Regions from separate parts of the Homo sapiens genome. Here region 2 is linked to region 1. Evidence: fine-mapped expression QTL. A gene starts in region 1. The other region holds a variant in brackets. All regions are shown on one strand. Distances are from middle to middle. Region 1 holds the start of RALGDS (ral guanine nucleotide dissociation stimulator). Region 2 has its middle 15 kb from the start of GBGT1.

Region 1 (2,895 bases):
CAAAGCCCGAGCTGCTGCCAGAGGTAATGAAAGCCAGATGAGCGCTGGGCTGGTGTCAGCCTCCCACCCCCACCCTCCCAGGGGTCCCTCTCCAGCCGCCAATGAGGACCAGAGCCCTGGATAGATGAGGGTTGAGGGAACACGTCTGGTCCGGCCATCTGCCAAGCTCAGGAGGAAAGGGTCTCTCAGGCGTGTGGTGTTCCCCCACCAAGAGCTCTGCCCAACACTGGGCGGAGAAACAAGTCGCATCCAGGCCCTGTCTAGGTACCGGGACACCAAGAGGCACGAGACTCAGGCTAACAATCGCCAGCAATCACAACGCGCCACAGTCTAAAGCCATGAAGCGACTGGAGACGCAGCAAGGCAACACGATGCCGCACGGGGACTCAGGAGGTTCACTGTGAAGGCTGCAGCCCAGCCAAAGCTCTGATGGGCCCTGAGCCCCCGATCCAGGAATGGCCTCTGTGCAGGCCCTGTGCCCAGGCAGAGCAGGGCGAGGGGGGCATCTCTGGATTCCACTCCCTCTGCTGTGTAGTCAGCAGCAGTCAGGTGGGAGGCAGATGGCACCACCCAGAGACCCAGGGCACACGAGAAACAAGCCCCCGCCCTCACCTAGTCACCCTCCCCTCCATCCATCACAGGTACACCACTCCCTTCTCTGAATCCTACCCAGTCCTTACCGATTCAGGGTGTTGGCACTCTTTCCAGTTAAGCAGAAACAAGTCTTGCCCGCCCTGGGCCTGGGCCACCCTCCTCCCCTCACCACCAGGACATCTGGTCCCACGTGTTGGAGGCCTGCTGCTCCACCCCATCCCCCGACCCCCCCCCCACCCCGCTCTGAGCAGCCCCGATGTCCCTGGTCACCAGATCCACATCTGCCCCAAGTAGGGTCTGTCTGGAAGGCCCCTATGGTCTCATCACCTCTGAGGATTCTAGGATTTGGCCTTCCCGACCACTTGTTCCACACCTGCATCGTAAAGGCTAACGACGCGCTGCGGGCCCTGGGTGGGAACTGAGTGAAATAAGGCACAGGCCACCGATGTAAACAGGGACAGTGCCGCAGAAAAAGGTCCACCTGGGCTGCAGCGGCCTTGGTGACAGCAGGCCCTGGAACGGTATTGAGGGGCGCAAAACCCCAGCCGTGGTCCCTACTGTTGGACGGGGCGCGGCGGCAGCCCCCACTGCCCACCCTGCTGGCTGATTTCTGCAGAAGGCCCCGACCCCCACCTATGGAGGAGAGAGGAGGGAGGCGGCCCGCTGGGATCGCCCGGCCCCGTCCGGGGCTCGCCCCGACCTGCCCAGCTCTGCCGCGGGTGGGGAGGCTCCGACGCACCCCCCGCCCGACCGCCCCAGCTCACCCACCTCCGGGCGCGGCAGGTCGGGGTCTAGCTGCGTGAAGCTGTGCAGCACCACCGGGCAGCTGTCGGGGACGCCCACCTCCAGGCGCACGGCGTCCCACACGCTGCGGCTCCGCCGGGAGCCCGGAAACAGCGGCTCGGCGCCGCCAGCAGGCCCGGCCGCCTCGGCCCACATGCGCTGCACCATGGAAGGCTCGCAGCGCGGGCGCGGGGCCGGCCCGGCGCGCGGCGGGGGCGGCGGCGCGGCCCGCGCGGCTGGGCTTTGCCACCGCTGTGAGCCCGCGGCCCGGCCCTGCTGATGTCAGGCTGGGGGGCGGGGCCGGAGGGGAAGAGGGTGGGGCCGGGGAGGGGCGGAACCGGAGAGTCCGAGGGACGCGTGCGTGCGCGCGCCCGCGGCCCCGCCCTCGCCGAGGTCAGACCCGGGGCGGGACCGGGAGCCTGGAGGGGCGGGGTCTGAACAAAGAGGGCGGGGCCGGGGAGGTCGAGGGGTGCGCGTTGGCTGGGTCTCCCGGAGGACCGGCTGTCACGTGTGTCGTGGGGCCTTGGGTACCCCGGTTAGGCACCGTTTGCGTGTCACGCTGCTGCAGTGCGTGTGTTGCGTAGGGCTGAAATGTGTACGTGCTGATCATGTGTGGGGAAGCCGCCCTGGAGTCAGCTACCCCGAATTCCAGCAAAGCCTCTCCCCAACTCTGTGGCCTTCCACAAGTTGCTTAACCCCTCTGAGCCTCACTGTTTCTTCATCTGGAAAATCTGGGTAGTGAAAATGACTTCCTCAAACAGTTGCGGGGAGGATGACATTACGTAATGGACATGAAGCACTCAGCACTGAGCACCTGCACCTGACTACAGGCTCAGGCGGAGTTTGGAGAGGCTGACCATGTGTTCAGTGACCCTGTCAGTGCAATTGGAAATCCTGAGTGTGGGGCTGTGTGTGCAGTGGGGGAAAGGGTCAGAGAGTGGGGCCCTACCTTTTTGGGGCAAAGCCCCACACTATCCCCTTACAGACACCCTCAGAGGAGGGGAAGCCAGGGAGGTGGGGGAGAGCGGAAGGCACCAAGGTTGGGGCTGAGAGGCATCTGACAAGGAGGAAGGCATCAAGAGTGACAACGCTGGGCAGAGCACATGGCTGCGTGGCCTGTCAGCTGGGGCTGCTTGTGGCTTGGACATCCCTGGTCTCAGGGTGGAAGTGGGGCTGCTGGGGCTGAAGGGGAAGCAGGGACAGGGACATCCTCAACTACTCTTTCTGGAAGCCAGTGAGGAAGGAAGACAGCCTGGGGCTTAACAGCAGGGCCAGGAGAATGGATGAATGAATGGGACCCTTCCTCATGCCTCACTCATCACTGGGCCTGCCCTGGCCTCAGCCTTCAGTCTTCATGGAGGCCAGCAATTGCTGCCAGCAGCCCTGGCCATGCCAACCTCCCCAGGTCTGGTCCGTACTATTGGGCCTCAGTTTCTCCATCTGTAAACTGAGAGGGCGGGACCAGACAGCACATTCCACGAGCACATCTTGCCCCCTTCCCAAGTGCCAATCCTCAGA
Region 2 (2,895 bases), 28 kb after region 1:
GGCCGGCACTAGCACAGCAGCAGCAGCCTCAGGCAGAAAACCCAGAAAACAAAACACACACCTTTGTTTGGGTGTTGTCAAGGTAGCAGCTCTCCTGAGTCCCAGGGGGTCAAAGGAGCAGAACCTGCAGGCTCCAGGGGTAATTCAAGGCGCCTCAGAAGCTTCATTTGCTCCCCTCTTTCCCTCTGCTGGTCCTGGGGTGTCCAGTTCACTCGTGAGGCCTCCTCACTCCAACCAGGGCAACGGCTCTGGCCCCACTTCCAAATAAGAACCCTGAGGCTCCAACAAGGACAGTCTTGTCCCACAAGAGTTGTCCAGTGCTTGGCCACGCTCTGCACCACCCCAGGCCCTCAGCCCTTCAGCCCCCCCGGCTTCTCTTGCTCAGAAGAACCTCCAAGAAGAAGGCATTTTCCACAGACCTCGGTGGGTAGTGGGGGCATCCCCAGTGGAGACCTAAGGCCGACAGACACGTCTACGAGCCTGTGGGACCCTTGGAGTCACCCAGGCCAAACATTCCAATTTATAGAGCAGGAATTTGAGGCTTCCTTTCCTACAGCCCCGTCCACACTGAAGGGGTCTTTTCCTGCTTCCAGGTGATCACAGCGGTGAACACAGAACCCCACAATCTGTCCTCTCCAGGCTGCCCCAGCCCAGACAGATCCTGGGAACCTTGGAGAATCCCCGCCCATCAAGCTGGCGTGTCCTCCCCTTGCCCCCCACCCCGTGCCATGGCCCCAGGCATGTTGCTGGGTACTGGATGCCCCTGCCCGTGGCAGAGTAGCCCCCGCCCTCTTTCTTCTTTCCCCCAGTCACTTCCCCAGCGTCCCGTCCTACTCTGAGCCCCAGGAAGTGTGTGGTGTGTGTGTCTGCGTGTGTGTGAGCATGTATGCGCAGGCCTGCGCCTGTACGTGCGCGGAGAAGCCCAGGCAAATGAGCCCACATGGGAGATGGGCAGGGGTCCCCAGGATCTTAGAGGCTGTCATTCCCAAAGCAAACCCCACGGGAAGGGTGAGCCGAGCCCTTCCTGGCCTAAGAGGCCGGAACCCTCCCTTCATCTCTGGACTCCGCCAACTTCGTGTGCCCCGGGCGAGTCCCTGCCCCTCTCCTGTCCTCAGTTTCCCTACTGTCCCGGGCGGGGTTGGACGCGGAGCTGCGTAAGCGCACGCTCAGCGTGGACGCGGCGCCGGGCTCCCTCCCCCCGGTGGGTGTGGGCTGGGGCATACGGTCCTCCCTCCACCCGCGACGCGAGGCTGGGGACGGCGCGCACTCACCTGGCAATCTACCATCATCCTCAGCCTCGGTGGCACATCGCCGGCCCCAGGGCGGGACCCGGGGCTCGCAGAGGCCGCTCGCCTGGGCCCGCGCGCGGCGCAGGGGTGCGCCCGGCTGCGGGGCTCATGGCGCGGCCTCCGGTCCCCGCCGGGCCCAGGACTCTGCGGCCCTCGGGGCCGCCCCGGCAGCCGCCAGCGCCGCTCCCATTGTC[T/TGCGCC]GCGCCGCGCCGCGCTCCGGCCGCTCGGGCCTCGCCGCTCGGTTCCGCCCCGGCTCCCCGGGCTCGGGCCCGGGTGGGCGGGGACAGCCGCGGCCCCGCCCCAGCCCGCCCGCAGGTGCGAGGGGCGCGCCCCGCCGCGTGAGCTCGGGGACGCGCTCGGGGGCGCGCTCAGGCCTCCCTCCCGCGGGCCGACGCGGGTGTTCCCCCCGCGGGGCAGCCGGGCCTGTTGTCCAAGGCCGGGCGCGCACACGGGGCCTGCGCGGGACCGCAGACAGCGCGTGCACGTCACTCCGCTTCGCCGCGCGCACGCGCCACGCTCCCAGCGCCATGTGCGGCCGATCTCACGTGTCCGTCCGCCCCAGCCGCCTGCTCAGTACTCCCCACCCCGCTAGGACCTAGGGCCAACCTCGCCCCAGCCAGGCGGGGGCCGCTGAGTCGGCGCGCCGGCGTCACCAAATATACACGTTCACCCTGGCGCCCAGCACCCCGATGCCACCTGCTGGACTCGGCTCGGCGGATGGCTGGGAGCTGGGGGACCCGAGGTGACAGCGAACTCAGCCTGGGCAGGGAGAAAGTCAGGTCTCCCCTTCCCCTCCTCTTCCCCACCTCCCTCCTTGTCTTCCCTGACAGCACCCGGGACCACAAGGTCCAGCTGCAGCTTCAGCTGGTGTAAGATGGGGCTCAAGGGAGCCTGGGGGAAGGAGGCCTCACACTGGGGTTGAGCGACTGTTGGGGGTAGTCAGTGTTATTAGGGCTAACTGATTTCGTCCCTTTTTATTTTTTATTTACTTTTGTTTTTGAGATGGAGTCTCGTTTGTTTGTTTTTTGAGACGAAGTCTCACTCTTGTCCCCCAGGCTGGAGTGCAATGGCGCGATCTCGGCTCACTGCAACCTCCACGTCCCAGGTTCAAGCAATTCTCCTGCCTCAGCCTCCTGAGTAGCTGGGATTACAGGCACCTGCCACCACGCCCGGCTAATTTTGTATTTTTAGTAGAGATGGGGTTTCACCATGTTGGCCAGGCTGGTCTCAAACTCCAGACGTCAGGTGATCCTCCCACCTTGGCCTCCCAAAGTGCTGGGATTACAGGCATGAGCCACTGCACCAGCCGCAGTCTCCTTCTTGTCGACCAGGCTGGAATGCAGTGGCTAGATCACGGCTTATTGCAACCTCTGCCTCCTGGGTTCAAGCGATTCTCCTGTCTCAGCCTCCCAAGTAGCTGGGATTACAGGTGCACGCTGCCACCACCACGCCCGACTAATTTTTGTGTTTTTAGTAGAGACAGAGTTTCACCATATTGGCCAGGCTGGTCTCGAACTTCTGACCTCAGGTGATCTGCCCTCCTCGGCCTCCCAAAGTGTTGGGATTACAGGCGTGAGCCACTTTGCCTGGCCAACCCTTTTGATTTATTTAT

The links. PIP is the estimated chance that this variant, and not a neighbour inherited with it, causes the effect.
Region 2: its variant is fine-mapped to the expression of RALGDS in whole blood (INTERVAL, PIP 0.97).

What each region holds. Positions count from the first base shown.
Region 1 is chr9:133,119,610-133,122,504 of GRCh38, forward strand. RALGDS (ral guanine nucleotide dissociation stimulator) reads right to left here and starts at 1,631. Exons shown (of 18, transcript NM_006266.4): 1 at 1,363-1,631. The coding sequence starts at 1,545. RefSeq lists an enhancer at 535-1,231 and a silencer at 1,211-1,920.
Region 2 is chr9:133,147,692-133,150,586 of GRCh38, forward strand. It overlaps a transcript of RALGDS not described here. Among named protein-coding and RNA genes, the nearest start is that of GBGT1, 15 kb to the right of the region's middle. RefSeq lists an enhancer at 1,159-1,806 and silencers at 1,216-1,305, 1,336-1,845. The variant T/TGCGCC (reference allele first, on the strand shown) is at 1,484.